Regions from separate parts of the Homo sapiens genome. Here region 1 is linked to region 2. The links come from fine-mapping of genetic effects on gene expression. Tissue or cell type: tibial artery. Region 2 holds a variant in brackets; the other region holds the start of a gene. All regions are shown on one strand. Distances are between the middles of the regions.

Region 1 (8,174 bases), 50 kb before region 2:
TTTGTTGCCCACAGAAAACCTTCCCGGAAGGGCCCAGCTTCCAGCGAGCTGGGAAGACGTGTCAGGGAGATTAAGGCGCCTCTGGTATGTCTCTGGAAAGCAGCCAACATACCCCGAGCTGTCGTCACGACAGACCCAGATGGGAGCTCACCCGGCCAGACCTAAACTCATTTTGACACATGGTGGAAGGTGTAAGGCCCCAGCCCCGATGGCCACTGCAGCCCACCGATGCACTGCTAGCCCTGGGAGGCCCTGCTGTCACGCCTCCGGCCTAAATCAGACTGTCGTCTCCCCTCTCCCTTGACCAGCACCCCCTTCCCTGGCTTATTGAGGCCTCTGCCTAAACCACGTCTCCTCTGGGAAGCCTTCCTATCCCCGCCTTCCCAGGCTGGGTTGGCCCTGCCTGTAGCCCTGGCGAATCATTAATCATTAATCATTAGCAAATAAGTCAACCCCTGCTGCTCTCCCCACAGCATAACCCAAGCAGAGGGCCCGGTGAAGAACAGCTCAACTGCACACCTGCTTCTGCAGGGTGAGGCAGCTGCACCTGTGACTTGGCGTTCATTTTCGCCAACACCATGTCTCTTCTTTGCCATAGCATCTCAGTCTGTCCAGCTCAAGCCTCCCCAGAAGCATCTCTGAGGCCGCCTGCTGCCCATTATACAACACCTTGCTCCTCAGGCTATCCCTAGCACCCCGCTGCCCCTGCCAATATACCCTCCAACTTTGAGGATTCTCCATTGAGGTGATTTCAAATGACATGGTAACAAACAGAGATTTGATTTTATTTTCATAGATTCTTATTTCCTTGTCAGAGCCACTTAAAAGGGAGCTAGGTGAATCCCCAGCTGGTGACTGTGAAGGGCCTGAGTTAGAGTGAGAAAAAGAGAAGGTATTGTATCTAGGGTAATCAGGGAAGGCTTCGAAGAAGAGGGGGATTTAACCTGTAACTTTCGTGACAAGGAAGGACATTCTAGGCCAAGGAAATAGCACAGGCAAAGGTGCAGAAGCCTGAGACAGGATGCAGCGTTCCAGGACCCTGCAGTGGTTTGGTGTCATAGGAGCTGGAGGGGTGACGGAAGGAGTAGGAGGTAATGCTGAAAGGGTGAGGAAAAGGGTGAAAGTGCCTTGCAGGGGAGCATAGACTCGATGCTGCAGACCGGGGTTTCCCAGGCGTGTTCTCCAAACACCAGGCCCAGGGAGTTCTCTGCTCCAGAGGAGGGGTGGGATTCTCTATTCTCCACTTGGTGACTTCCTCCGACACAGCCGCTACTGTAAAGACTTTCATAGTAACTACCTGGGGCTATCTGCAAGGCACTGGGCCACGCTCTAACCATGGCGCATGCAGCACTGTATGACCCACATCAAAACCCTATGATCTAGGTACTGTTGCATTATCCCCATTTTACAGGGAAGTTAAGAAATGTTCCCAAGGTCACACAGCTGGTTGAAGGTAGAGCTGAGGTTTTAACTCTAGCAGTCTGACTTTGAGCTGTCTCAGAGGAAATAACGTGCTTAACTTTTTGTTTCGTCCAGCATTTCCCAAACTTCCTTTTGATGTAATTATGGAAAAATTGTCTTGCACATCTAGTGACATTGTAAAAGGCAGTTGATTCTTTGTCAATGGTGAACTATTATAGGGTTCTGACCCAGGAGACTTGATTTGATTTGCAAATATTCTTAGTAAACTCATTATCAGTCACTTACACTTTAGTGTGAATTAGTCCGTTCTTGGGGTCTCTCCACTTTCTTATAAGCTTCCTGAAGGCAGGGCAGGTACTGTCTGATTCACTGTTGTGTTTCTAGTACCCAGGGGGTGTGGCACACTAAATGGTGCTATAAGAACATTTGCTAGAGTGAGTTGAAATTCTCCTGTTGAAGACCGTAGGAACAGTGGAAAGAATGGCTGTAGTCTGGTAGGCAGGTAGTGGTAGGCTCAGCCTGTGGGAGAGAGGAGTCAGTGGTGGCTATAGGGCACGTCCTGGGAATGGGAGTCATGGAGCTGTGGTAGAAAGCAAGACTCACCTATATCATGGCACAGCTAAAGGCCAGGTCTGGGCTGGGTGTGGTGGCTCATGCCTGCAGTCCCAACACGTTAGGAGGCCAAGATGGGAGGATTGTTTGAGCCCAGGAGTTGATCAAAACCCAAATCCAAATACCTACTTAGCATATTTTCTCTTCTGGGAAGTAACTAACCACCTGATTATTTGGAAAATGAGGCATTTGTTGGAGTTGAAGGTGTAGCAAGAAACTTTTGGTTTTAAGAGTCAAAGTCAGAGGAAAAAAAACTCTCAGACTTGTATTCACCCCCACCCCCCACCCCAAGCTACTGCAAAGAGCAGGGGCTTTGGAAGATTGGTTTGTTGAAATGAAGTTCCTTTGACAAAGGTACCTGGGCCCATTTCTCTCATTCTAAAAAGGACAAGACTGATACCCAGAGACGGCAAGGTCACAGAGCTGATTAAATTGGGATCAGAATCTTCTCAGTCAGGAGCTCTGTCCATGGCTTCAGAGCCTGTGCCCCAGTCCCCTCTCCCCACCTCTCCCCTATGCCCCACTTGGCCCGTCCTCTTCATCCTCTGCCCCTGTCTCCTATGTCAGGAGGAGGAAGCCCCTGTGTGCACCCCACCCTTTACCTCCCACCCTCACTGCAGACTGCACTTCCCATTCCCTGCTGCCTGCTGCCTGACTGCTCCTAATGAGATTACAGATCTCTGGTGAAATAGACGAGGGTTAATTCCCCCAGGCTTTACAGGGCAGGGCAGGCCAGGCCACAAGAAATAGCAAAAAGACACCTATTCTCCAAAGCACTAAGTGTGATAATGACCCTAAGAGTCCGTTCCCCTGTTCAGCACACCAGGGTTCACACTGCGTTTCCAAATACCCTCTGGGTGGAATTTTGTACCAGCCCTAACAAAGTAGATGCTGTTATCATCTCTATTTTACAGATGGAGAAACTGAGGCACAGTGAGATGAAATGCTTGTCTGAGGTCACACAGCTAGTAAGTGGCAGAGCTGGGACCCGAATGTGGGTCTCTTGGGCTCTGTCATCTTTAAAAAATAATAGGCCCAGAGAGCCTGCAGGGTGCCCAGCACCAGGCTTGAAACAGCCCTGAAGCATCTACGTCCCATTTCCCGGTGAGTGGCACAGCCCACCTTTGAACTCAGGTCCCCTGGACTCGAATCTACATTCCCCACAATACTGCCAAGCACCCTTGAACCTATCTGCCTGTTCATGTGGTGGAAACAGACTGGCCTAGCCCTGACTTCTGACCTCTGTGACCATGGCCAAGGGACTGGCTTCTGGGGTCTCAGCCTCCCTTTCTGAAAAATGAAGGTGGGAACCCTGGGATCTTTGGGACAATTCCCTATGATTGGCATAGCTAAGGCAGCCAGCACAGGCCTGGCCCGCAGCACATGCACCCACCCACCTCAGTTTCTTTATCTGTAAAATGGTGATATTAATAGTACTTATTTCTTGGGATTGGTGTTAGGATTAAATATGCCAGTACATGTAACACTCTTCTAGAATGGCACCTGGTGCATAGTAAATGCTTAATTAATGTTGAGGGAAACTGATATCTTACTGTCTTGTTTTTGATTCTTTCTGGAAGGAAGCAGGGGTAAAGATCAAACCAACCAAGCAAATGTTCCTCTTGTTCCTTCCAGTACCTGGTCCACTCAACTGTTTAAGAGGAACGCTTGGCTTTGAGGCCTGAACTCCTAGACCACGTGGTCTGCTCTAATTTCCCAGGCCCTAATCTGCTCCCAGCTCCTAATGATGCAGCTGGTAATAGGATTGTGGCTTCCCTCTAAGGCGGCCACACGGGCATGGCCGTGGGGCTGGCGACTGGTGTTTAGCAACTCCGACCACCTGCCTGCTGAGGGGCTAGAGCCCTCAGCCCAGACCCTGTGCCCCCGGCCGGGCTCTCATGCGTGGAATGGTGCTGTGCCCCTTGCCAGCAGGCCAGGCTCACCATGGTGCCGCATGCCATCTTGGCACGGGGGAGGGACGTGTGCAGGCGGAATGGACTCCTCATCCTGTCTGTGCTGTCTGTCATCGTGGGCTGCCTCCTCGGCTTCTTCTTGAGGACCCGGCGCCTCTCACCACAGGTCAGCCACCCAGAGCATCTCGGGACCCCTGTCCAGGAGGGGCGTGTGGGCCTGAGGGATCTGGGGTCCCGTTCTAGCATCACAGCTCCCTGGTGCCATGACAGTGTGTGAATCCCTCTGCCTCTCTGGGTCCTGGTTTTCTCATCTGTAACATGGGTGTGATAAACACTTTGCAGGACTAGAGGGAAGAACCAGTGATGTGGCTGGGGAGTGATTACAAACCCAGCACCATCAGGTGAGGAGAGGCGAGGGTGCCTCATGATGACAAACACAGGGCCAAGAGCTGTGGCGGGGAAAGAGGGGGGTCTTGTGTGAGTTCAAACAGGCACCAGAGAACACCTCCTAAAGGCTGCTCAAATGACAAGAGATCCAGGAAGCGTGCTCTAGGCAGAGGTGACAGCAGATGCCAGGTGCAGCGGCCGGAGCGCAGAGGCCAGCAGGCCCATAGGTCCCATCGCCACACGTGGGCTTGCGGCAACCATGAGATGCTTTTGGGCAGAAGAGCGACAGGCCAGTTTGGAGCTTGGGAGACCCCTCAGGTGCTGAGTGGAGAGGGGGTGATTCTGGGGCAGGCAGGGGGCCGAGAAGGGGCAGCCTGGGGGAGATGCGGCAGTGCAGACAAAAGGGACAGACGTGAGAACTGTTTTCAAAAGGGGGAGCTTCAGGATGTGGGGGCCGATTGGATGTGGGCTGGGGGACAGGAAGGGGAGCCAGGCCCCGGGTTTCCAGCCTGTGTAACTGCCATGAAGAAGCTGCGTTTCCTGGGAAAGAGCCCCTTTCCCTGTCAGCCCCCATCTCCTACAGGAGAGGGAGGGACATTCCCATGGTGTTAAGGACAAAATCATTCTGCCACTAGTTAAACTGGTAAGGAAGGCTCTATTCAGGACTATTGTGGTAGGGGGGTAGTTATCAAGACCTCCTGGGGAGAGAGATGGGACCCAACCACAAATACAACAAAGATGGCTGGAGATTTATAGCCAGCGAGCAGAGGGAGGGGGTCGGGGACAGAAAATGACTACAGGAGACATCAGGGTAGGGGGATTCTTGTTGAAGGCAGGCCAGGGTGATCAGACATTGATCTGGGATGAGGAATTTGATCCAGTATCAGGATGCTGGAGGGTGAGGGATCCTCACTAAACTGACTTGGCAGGACTTTTGCTACAGCTGGACTATGCAGGCTGAAGACAAGGCCCAAGGACAAAGCCCAGTGGAAAAGAGGGCTCAGAGGAGCCTGTCTAAAGTGTGGTCAAGGAGAGAGGCTTTGTCAATGGGCTCCTGGAAGAGTCCCTATTCCCAGAAAGTCCTCTTCCCGCAGCTCACTAATGTCTAATGCCATCTCTACAACTGGGGTCAGGCATTAGACTTTGTCTTCCATTAAAAGGAAAACACCCACTCCTGGAGAACTGAGCCACGACTATAGTGACCCTGTTAAGCCTCGAGCAGTTATTTAGGAAGAAGCATGGACTCTGGAGGCAGAGAAACCCTGAACTTTGACTCTGCTAGCAAATGGCTAGGCAATATCCTCTCTCCTCCCTGGGCCTCAGTTTCCTTGTCTGTAAAATGGGATGTGGGGCAGTATATGTCTACTAGAATTATTATGAGGAATAAACCAAGGATTCATCAATGCCCAGCATACAGTAGGTGCTTACTACGTGTTACTTCCCCCTCCCTCCCTTATGTACCTGTTAAAGTCCTATCTACATCAGGAACCATCTCATCATCCATAGCTGATGAAAGTAACTGTAACCCCGCTGCTGGCTGCCTGGCTTCAGAGCTGGTTATATGGGTGTCTCTTTCTCCCACCAAGCTGCATATTGCTGAACAACATATGGGTTTGTTTTTTTTTTTAACCAAAACGTGAGCCTAGCCCTGTGTCAGGCACAGAGAGAACGCTCAACTATCTGCTGCATTAAACTGGCAATGGAACAAAAAAATCTGCAATCTGTTCTCTTTAATTTTCCTCAGCAACAAAAATATATCTCCTGCAGGAAGATTATTTTGTGAAAACAAATTGGAATGCCTATTATTAAAAGCCAAACTCATCTGGGGCCTACTTTGCCAAAGCTGCCTTTCCCATCTGTTTGGAAATGCAAATGTATTCCAGTCTGGATTAACCTGCCAGATAAATTGAAGGAAGGATGTAGAGGCTTAGAACAATTATTTGGCAGAAACTGGCTTTCTCAGCATCTTACTTTGAAATCTGGGATTTCTCTGTTTGATCTCTTTGCCTGTGACTCAGAAACTAAACACTTCTTGTTTTGTAAGCTTATGCAACAGGCAAAAATCATAAACAATATGGAAAATGGTAGAATGTTCTATTTGTGAAAAAGAACTTTTATCCTTGATAAAATCACAGGATTTTATCTTGGTGTATGAGTGTCTCATTTAAAAATACTGAGCATTTTGAGACTTCCAGTTAAACCATGGTGAATCACAGGTGTATCCATTTTTTTCCCTCCTTCCTAGAATTCCACTAACATTTTAGTAATGGGATTTTTAAAAGGTAAAACCACCAAGAATAAAGAGAATATAAAAGGAGACAGTTGAGAAAAAGAAATAGAGAGGCTACAACAAATTAGATAATATGGAGGTGGGTGGAGCTGATGACCTCATTCACAGAAAGCTGGAATCTTAGTCTGTGGAAGTTGATACCAAGTCAGTTTGTCTTGCAGACTCCAGAACGTAACAGAGCAAGATGCTGCACTAGGCAGGGTGAGGCTGGGGTTGAAAGCCTGGGCATGGTTTGGAGTTTTGTAACCAGAGCAGTTAGACCCCTAGGGACCTTCCAATTCAGTTGGGGGACTCATCCACCCATCTCCACCCACTGCCTGCCCCAAGGAACCAGAGAAGCTGGACTTGAGGGTATTGGGCCACCCCTGTGTGTGTTGGGGAGAGGGCCATGCTGAGGCACCTACTTCAAACTAATTAACAGACATCCTTGTCTGAGTGGGGTCCCCAGCACGGTTTCAGATCGCTGTCAGCTGAGCTTAGGCACCATGTCATTCCTCAGCCAAAGGCAGGAAGAGACTTCTCTCACTGAGGCCTCAGAGAAAAGATCTCTAAATTCTGCTATAAAGGAGACTCCTCTACCATCCCACCCAGCCCCAGTGAAAAAGCCAGATCAGCACCTGTCACCCTGCCCTGAGGGCCGTCAGTTGACAAACCCTACTCATACATGCAGAAGTTTAGCGCTTCAAACTTACATACGAGCAGAAAGCCACGCCACCAGAAATGTGAGGAGGCTCCTAATGTGAAACAGAGTAAACGAAGAGAAAAGGGGGTCTCTAATGAGAGAAACAAAGAGAAAAGTGGGTCTCTAGTGAAGCAGAGACAAGGCGGGGAGGAGAAGGAAGCTTTGTAAATCTCCTCTTAAGCTTTCTGGAGCTGCGAGTGAAGATATAGTTACCGTACAACAGAGGGGATGTGAAAAGAAGGAACAATCAGAGAACAAGAAAGAATCTGGGGAAATTAAAAATAGAAGAACTAAGATAAAAATGTGAGTAGCTGCCCAACACATAGAAAGGATAAATACTCGAAGTGTTGGAGACCCTGAATACCCTGATTTGAACATTACACAGTGTATTTAACAATATACCAACTGTATCCCATAAATATGTACAAATATTATATATTAATATAAAAACTTTGGCTAGGCCTGGTGGCTCATGCCTGTAATCCTAGCACTTTGGGAGGCCAAGGCGGGTGGATTGCCTGACCCCAGGCATTCAGGGCCAGCCTGGGCAACATGGTGTGAGACCCCATCTCCAAAAAAAAAAAAAAAATTAATGTCAATAACTGGGATAAAGTTGTAGAAATCTCCCAGAAACTAGAACAAAAATAAATGAAAATAGAAAAAGAAAATATAAGAAAATTAGAATGTTCAATGTCCAGCTACCTAATGACACTTTTAGAGACAGCTAACAGAAGAAAAATAGAGGAGAAACAGTTTGCAGAGAATCTAAGCAGTTTCTCAGAAGTGAAAGGCAAGCATAGCACTGTCAATTTTGTTTACAAAAGAAAGAAAACCCCATACTATGGCCCATCACCATGAAATTACCAAA
Region 2 (8,000 bases):
CCGAGGCGAGTTGTGTGAGTGTACTGAGGTGGAGTGAGTGTACTGAGGCGGGGTGTGTGTGTACCAAGGTGGTGTGTGTGAATGCACCGAGGTGGTGTGACTGTACCAAGGCAGTTTGTGTGAGTGTACCGAGGCGGGTTGTGTGAGTGTACCGAGGCGATGTGAATGTACCAAGGTGGTGTGAGTGTACTGAGGTGGTGTGTGTGAGTGTACCGAGGCAGTGTGTGTGAGTGTACCAAGTCGGGGTGAATGTACCGAGGTGGGGTGTGTGAGTGTAACAAGGTGGAGTGAGTGTACCGAGGCAGTTGAGTGTACCGAGGCAAGTTGTGTGTGTGTACCGAGGCAGGGTGTGTGAGTGTATTGAGCTGGGGTGTGTGAGTGTACCTAGGCAGGTTGTGTGAGTGTACTGAGGCGGGTTTAAGTGTACCAAGGCAGTGTGTGTGTAACGAGGCGGGGTGTGTGAGTGTATCGAGGCAGGGTGAGTGTACCAAGGCGAGTTGAGTGTACCGAGGCGGTGTGAGTGTAACGAGGCAGAGTGTGTGAGTGTACCGAGGCGGTGTGAATGTACTGAGGCAAGGTGTGTGAGTGTACCAAGGCGGGGTGTGTGAGTGTACCAAGGCAGGGTGTGTGAGTGTACCAAGGCAGGGTGTGGCTTACTGTGTATGCTCATGCCTTTATGTGCCCACATCTGCCAGTGCCTGTGTCTGTGTGCACGTGCATCTCTGTGTCCCTGCATCAGTGTGTGCCTGGCCTCTCCGTGCCTGTGTCTGTGTGCACCTGTGTCCCTGTGTTCCCCCATCAGCATGCGCCTGGCTTACCTGTGCCTGTGTCTATGTGCACCTGCGTCTGTGTGTGCTCATGCCTGCGTGTGCCCACATCTGCCTGTGCTCATGTCTGGGTGCAGCTGCATTCCTGTGTCCCCGCATCAGCGTGTGCCTGGTCTTTCCGTGCCTGTGTCTGTGTGCACCTGCTTCTGTGTGTGCCTGTGCCTGTCAGTGTCCACATCTGCCGGTGCCTGTGCCTGTTGGTGCAGATACCAGTGTCTGCCCGCGTGTGTGAGTGAGCACACTAGCACAGCGGCTCCGAGCAGGGCTTTCTTTGGTTCCCTCAACCCAGCCTCCTTTCCCCACCCCATCCCTGGGATGTGGCTGGTGCTAAGGTCCTGCTGGCCCTGCCGTGAGGGAGCCCCCGTGCCACACTAGGGTTCCATGCACACTGGCTCCCAGCAGCCAGTCCTCGGATGCCCCTGGGAAAATCCAAATGGGCCTGAGGAGGGGCAGGAAGCCCGTGCGTGGTGGTGGTGGAGCCCGGGGAGGGCGGAGCCGGCAGGGGAGTCTGGGTCTGCATCAGCCAGGCGGCAGGAAGACAGGCGGGCGGGGTAGGCCCAGGGTCACCTCCAACTCCAGCCTCTCCTACCCACCCTGGCAGGGCCCTCACCTCACTCCGTCACCACGGGGTAGCTGCTCCATGGACTGTGTGGCTCAGGCTTCTCAGGACAGGGAAAGAGCCCTTCTCTGGTGTCCCACAGGCCAGGGTTTGAATCCCACCCTGCCTCCCTAGCTGAGCCCCAGCACCATGACAGTGGGCCTCATGAGGGCAGCTGTAGAGAGTGCTCTGCTCCCCACGTCGGTCTCACCAGGAGGTAGGGCAGCCACTCAGTCCCTGTTTCAGGACTGGCCTGACAGAGCTCACCCCACGGAGCCGTTCCCACACCACCCTTTCCTGGTGTGTGCGAGCTGGGGAGGAAGGCCTAGAATGCCGGGGGAGGCGCCAGGAGCATCAGGAAAGGCCCTAGTCCTCACTCACCATTGACCACTGTGCGTCTAACATGCTCCAGCTAAGGAGATGCAGTTCTTGCTCTCGCTGAGCTAACCTCGCAGAGGAGACGGGAAAAAACCCAGACAGTTATGTTGTAATAGGCCCTAAGAGGTGAGATATTGAAGAATAAATGGGAGTTTGCAAAGGGGATCGGGGATGGCTTCCAAGCTGTTTGGAGAGCGGGCAGCCAGTGCCTGGGGCACTGTGTAAACGGCTTGCGCAAAGGCCCTGAGGCAGTGAAGAGCTGGACTCCCTCCTTCCAGAAACTTAAAGAAGGCCAGTGGTGCCAGGGCACAGTGAGATGGGCAGGAGCAGGAGGGAGAGGCAGGCAGGGCCCACTCGAGTGGGGCTGAGGCATCGAGCTGGGTGAGGCAGCGGGGAGCTTGTCATGGCCTAAGCGCACAGCGAAGCCAGGGGTGCACTTGGCAGGGAGCACTTTTATCCTGAGGAGGTGACATTGGCTGCTGCGTGGAGGAAGGTGAGAGAGGAGGACGTGAGAGCACTGTGGGATCGGTAGTAGAGTGGAGGAGGAGAGAGGGAGAGAGAGAGTGGGGGGAGTGGGGGGAGTGCTGGAGCATCAAGGCTGCTGGGAAGCCAGCCATGCTGAGACCCATGTGGGCCTGTGGGTCTGTCCCTGCTTTACCACAGCACTGTGTCCCTGACCCGCAGGCATCATGCTGGGCCGCATGGGTGACAGCGGGGCCCCCCTGGTCAGCTTCTGCCAGTGCCTCAATGAGTCGGTCATGAAGATCGTGGCGGTGGCTGTGTGGTAAGCCTCCTCATTTACCCACCTCACCCCGGCCAGCCCTGGGTGGATGGAGGGAAGACAAGACCCCACCCTCTTCTCCCGTAAAGTGAGCAGAAAGCTGTGCCCAGGCTCAGCCCTGGGCCGGGGCCTCCGGAGCTACATGTGTTTCCATGGGTCCCCCAGCCCCAGCCAGGCCTGGCTCCGGCCCTGGGCCTGCCCCTTCCAGCCTGGTCTAAGAGCTCTGCCCGGCTCTGCTGCTCTCCTGGGCTCAGTTTCTCCATCACATGGAGCCTTATCAGCTCAGCTTTTGGAGAAAGGAAAGCTGGCGGTAAGGACTAGCCCACAGTTCAGAGTCCTCGGCCCACAGTTCAGAGTCCAGGAGCTCAGTGGGGAACGCAGAGGGAGGGCTGCCCAGGCGCACTGTGTAGACTCTGGCGTTGTTGGGCCTGAAATGGGGGCCTCCTGAAGGCAGGGCGGGGGAAGGAGTGGCAGAGGTTGTCTGGAGCTGGGGCGGTGGAAGTAACGGTATGAAGGACGCCATGTGCTGAGCCTGGGCCGGGCACCTTGGCAGTCTCGCTCTGTCCTCGCAGGAGCCCCAGGAAGCTCAGGGGGAAGGCCGCGCAGCGATGCGGGGCTGGGGCCGGGGTGTGTCTGCCTGCCTGGTTCCTGAGCCTGGCTGCCCCGCCGCCCCCAGGTATTTCCCCTTCGGCATTGTGTTCCTCATTGCGGGTAAGATCCTGGAGATGGACGACCCCAGGGCCGTCGGCAAGAAGCTGGGCTTCTACTCAGTCACCGTGGTGTGCGGGCTGGTGCTCCACGGGCTCTTTATCCTGCCCCTGCTCTACTTCTTCATCACCAAGAAGAATCCCATCGTCTTCATCCGTGGCATCCTGCAGGCTCTGCTCATCGCGCTGGCCACCTCCTCCAGGTAGCCCCGGGGACGGGCAGGACGGTGGGGAGCTGGGAGGGGCTGAGCCCTGTCCGTCTGTCCAGCCATCATTGGTTCATAGCCACAGAACCACCAAAACGCCAGTGTGGCCCACCTCACAAATGCGGGGACGGCTGGTGCTGGGGTAACAAGACTGACGTGGGGGACTTTTGGCCTTTGTCGAGGCCTCTCCTTCCCCCACGGCCCCAGTCCTCAAGCTCACTGAGTCCGCATGGGGGCGGCCTCGACGCGCCAGGGCAGACAGCACAGTAGAGTCAGTGGGAAATCACATTGGCAACGCACTGCTGCTGCCTTTTGCCCCACAAGGTGCTTCTCCTGGAGTCGGGCCCTGTGTTGCTCTAGGAGCTCGGCCTGTCCACTGCCGCTGGGATGTCCTGGCTGGGTGCCCTGTCACAACCTTGGCAGTGTCCCTAGACCTCAGGGACTTGAGCCATGGCTCTGTCACTCACTCGCTGTGCCTGGGCATTGCTTTCCTCATGCACAGACTGGGGGAGACTCCAGCTTCCAGCTCACAGGGTTGCAGTGGAGGTCGAGCCCCTCCTTGCCAGGCTGGGCCAGGTGAACCAGCACTTGGCCTTAAGGATCCCAAACCTCAGCCCAGTGCAGAGACCTCAGGAATTTAGAGTTGTGCAAACCATGTCGTTGGTGGAGGGGGCAGGAAGGAAGTGGTCCCTTATGGAGCATCTAGTGCTGTGAAGGCAGTTTGGCTCTCCCCATGGC[A/G]AGTGTCTGAGCTCCACATTAAGGGAGTCGCAGGAACTTAAGCCACATCTTTCTGGCACTGAAGGCCTCACTCTTCCCTCTAGCCCTCACTTGGGTCTCAGTTTTTCCATCTGTAAAATGCCCTGCAGGCCTCTGTACCCAGCAGTCATATGACACCCACCCCTGGCAGCAGATGCACCTCCTGCAGGATTCAGGAGCAGACCCCAGTGAAGAAAAGCCCAGGAGCCATTGCCAGGAACACCCTCCCGCAGATAGGGGGTCAGAGGGCAGGACAAAGCCCCAAACATGCCAGCTCCCATGCCAGGGGCCAAGCCAGCCAGAGCCAGCAGCCCCCTGGCCATCTCCTGCCAGCAGGAACCGCAGCCTCAAGCCCAGCAGGTCTGGAGCTCCTGAGAGGCTCTGGCGAGTAGAACCGGCCTTCCAGGCAGAGGCCCGGGGGAGAGGAAGACACAGGGGCCACACCGGCCTGTTTTAGTCCCAGCACTGCCACTGGGAACTCTCATGACAAACATAGTAATAATAATAGTCATGGTCACCATTGACTGAGTGGGTACAATGGGCCAGGTGCTGTCCAAGCCCGTAGTCGTTTAATCCTCCTAGTAGCTCTGTGACCCAGGTCTTTTTGGGACAAAGATGCTGAGGCACAGGGTTCAGGAACTTGCCAGGACCACTTGACAGGAGGCTGGAATCTAAGCCCAGACAGCCTGGCCCAGGGCCCTGCTGCTCAGACCTCCATATCCCTCGGCACAGCAGTGTGACATGGGTCAGCCCCGCCCTCTGGGCGTCAGCTTCCTCATCTGTAAAATGCACCCAAACACCTCCCTCATAGGAAGAACCAAGTGAGAGCACTGCAGTGCCCGCGGTCCTTACCTCCTGCCGGAGCAGCGCTGCAGAGGCACAAACACTCCTGGCGGGGTGGCTGCCTGGGGAGGGGTGAGCTTCCCGACAGAGGCCCCAGCCATCCTGGAGGAGGGTGCTGGGCAGACACCGGCCCCTCTAACCGTAGCTCAGCCACACTGCCCATCACCTTCAAGTGCCTGCTGGAGAACAACCACATCGACCGGCGCATCGCTCGCTTCGTGCTGCCCGTGGGTGCCACCATCAACATGGACGGCACTGCGCTCTACGAGGCTGTGGCCGCCATCTTCATCGCCCAGGTCAACAACTACGAGCTGGACTTTGGCCAGATCATCACCATCAGGTGCACCCTGACACTGCACCTGGGTGGATGGGGCGGGGGCTGGGGGCCTTGGGGATTCCCAGGCTCCCAGACTTGAGGGGTATCTGAAGCGAGCGAGCCTGGGCTCGGAGCACAGCAGGCAGAGGGCCAGGGCTGGGAGCTCCGAGCCTGGAGGACAGCCCGGGAGGGAGGGCATTGCTGGTGGCCACAGGGCGAGCGGAGGCCAGGGACAGGACTCAGGACCTTGGAGAGGCCGCCCGTGTGGCAGGAGCCAACGAAGGGGTGCTGGGATGCGGCTGAGGCTGACGGAGGCCTCACAGCCCAGCCAAGCACACAGGTCTGACCCTGGAGGCCAGGCCCCAGAGGCAGGCAGGCAGAGCCATGTGGTGGTCAGTCAGAGTCCCTGGGCAGCCCCATAGCAATATAGCTTCCTGGAACCCACAGAGGCACAGCTCCAGACACAGGTGTTTGCACAGTTCCCAGGGATTCTCCTGAGGCCAGGAATGGGGGTCCATGGGGCTTCAGGACTGTGAGGAGGGACTTGACCCCGAGAGCTCCCTGGTGTGGCATTCCTACCCACCCCCCGCACCAAATGGCTGTCCCAGAGGCCCTGACACTCAACCTCTTCCTTGGAGCCAGACCCTGACAATGCACCCTGCCCCTCCTGCTGCTCCTCTTCCCCTTCCCACCCCCTGCAGTATCACAGCCACTGCAGCCAGCATTGGGGCAGCTGGCATCCCCCAGGCCGGCCTCGTCACCATGGTCATCGTGCTCACCTCCGTGGGACTGCCCACCGATGACATCACCCTCATCATTGCCGTTGACTGGGCTCTGTGAGTGGACTTTGCCTCTAGCTCTAGCCCTCTGGGAGGGGCTGACTTCAGGGTCAGCAGGGATCAGGGTGAGCGGCTGAGTCCCTTCCCCAGGGTAGAAGGCTGGGGACTGCCCCGCTTGGCACTGTGGGAGTGCCCTACTCATTAGCACAGGCCTGGCTGCATAATTTGTGGGGTCCAGTGTTCAAAAATGAAAATGTGGAACCCAGTCCAAAAACTGTAAAGGCCAGGCATGATGACTCACGCCTATATGTCCCAGAACTTTGAGAGGCCATGGCAGGAGCATTCCTTGAGCCCAGGAATTCCAGAGCCCAGCCTGGGCAACACAGTAAAATCCCCATCTCTACTAAAAATTAGAAAAGAAAAAATTAGCTGGGACTGGTGACATGTGCCTGTAATCCCAGCTATTCAGGTGGCTGAGGCACGAGAATTACCTGAACCTGGGAGATGGAGGTTTCAGTAAGCCGAGATGGCGCCACTGCACTCCAGCCTGAGTGACAGAGCAAGACTCTGTCTCAAAAAACAAACAAACAAACAAACAAAAAACAAACCTATAAAGAATTTCAAGACAGAAACAGCAGAGGATTAAACCAAACCTAACCCTTCTAAGCATGGGGACCTGTGGAACCCACAGCTGCATGCCAAGAAGCTGCTTCAATGATGCCAAAGGGTGGGCTTGGGAGGAGCCAGGAAGCCATCTGGCTGCAGGCTTTGCATGACAGCTGGTCACCGGCCGTGCTGTACTGTGCTGGGTTGAGCACTGCCCTCTTCCAGCTCCCCTTCAAGTGCCCACCACTCACCCCCAACCTTGGCTCACCAGGGACCGTTTCCGCACCATGATTAACGTGCTGGGTGATGCGCTGGCAGCGGGGATCATGGCCCATATATGTCGGAAGGATTTTGCCCGGGACACAGGCACCGAGGTGAGAGCAGTGAGATCCAGAGGCTGCCAGGAGGGTGGAGCCACGCAGGGTGGGCAGGGCACCAGATCTTCCACCAACCAGCTCGGCAGCCTCCAGCCAATCCCTCCCTCCATGCCTCTGGGCCTCGGTCTCCTCATCCGTTACAGAATGACTGATTCCTCTAACATCTATTTATTGAGCACCCGCTGTGGCTGGCGCTGATATAGACACAGGAGGAACAGTAGAACAAGATATGATAAAATTCCCCGCCCTCGTGTCGGGATGGTCTGTCCAGTTTAGCCAACATGTGAGCATTTGTAGGTCTGTGCAGGCTGTGTGGGCTTCAGGCTCCTTCTACAGGCAAATGGAGAAGGCTGTCCCCACATCATGGGGAAGAAGCTGAGGTCAGGCAGGGGATCCACCAATTCCCCAGATGGACCCTGTGGATTAAGTCCCCTCCTCTACTAAGCCAGCTCCAGTGGGAGGCAGGACGCTTGGGAACAGGAGCCCAGGGAGGCCGTGACCTGCCGAGGTCACACAGCGTGTCTGCAGGAAAATCCATCTTGTGGTTCCTAGCCCTGAGCTCATTCTGCCCCACTGGCCCTCAGTCCTCCCTCGTATCTAACCTTGGTCCCTCCTGCTGCTACAAAGACCTGTTTCCCTTCACCAGAAACTGCTGCCCTGCGAGACCAAGCCAGTGAGCCTCCAGGAGATCGTGGCAGCCCAGCAGAATGGCTGTGTGAAGAGTGTAGCCGAGGCCTCCGAGCTCACCCTGGGCCCCACCTGCCCCCACCACGTCCCCGTTCAAGTGGAGCAGGATGAGGAGCTGCCCGCTGCGAGTCTGAACCAC

Evidence for each region. PIP is the estimated chance that this variant, and not a neighbour inherited with it, causes the effect.
Region 1: it holds the start of SLC1A7, and the variant in region 2 is fine-mapped to the expression of SLC1A7 in tibial artery (GTEx, PIP 0.94).

The regions. Positions count from the first base shown.
Region 1 is chr1:53,138,254-53,146,427 of GRCh38, reverse strand. It overlaps SLC1A7 (solute carrier family 1 member 7), which reads left to right and starts at 3,790. Exons shown (of 11, transcript NM_006671.6): 1 at 3,790-4,113. The coding sequence starts at 3,979.
Region 2 is chr1:53,088,048-53,096,047 of GRCh38, reverse strand. It overlaps SLC1A7 (solute carrier family 1 member 7), which reads left to right. Exons shown (of 11, transcript NM_006671.6): 6 at 2,488-2,587; 7 at 3,261-3,494; 8 at 5,242-5,436; 9 at 6,114-6,248; 10 at 7,069-7,171; 11 at 7,821-8,000. Among named protein-coding and RNA genes, the nearest start is that of PODN, 30 kb to the right of the region's middle. RefSeq lists an enhancer at 625-1,162. The variant A/G (reference allele first, on the strand shown) is at 4,236.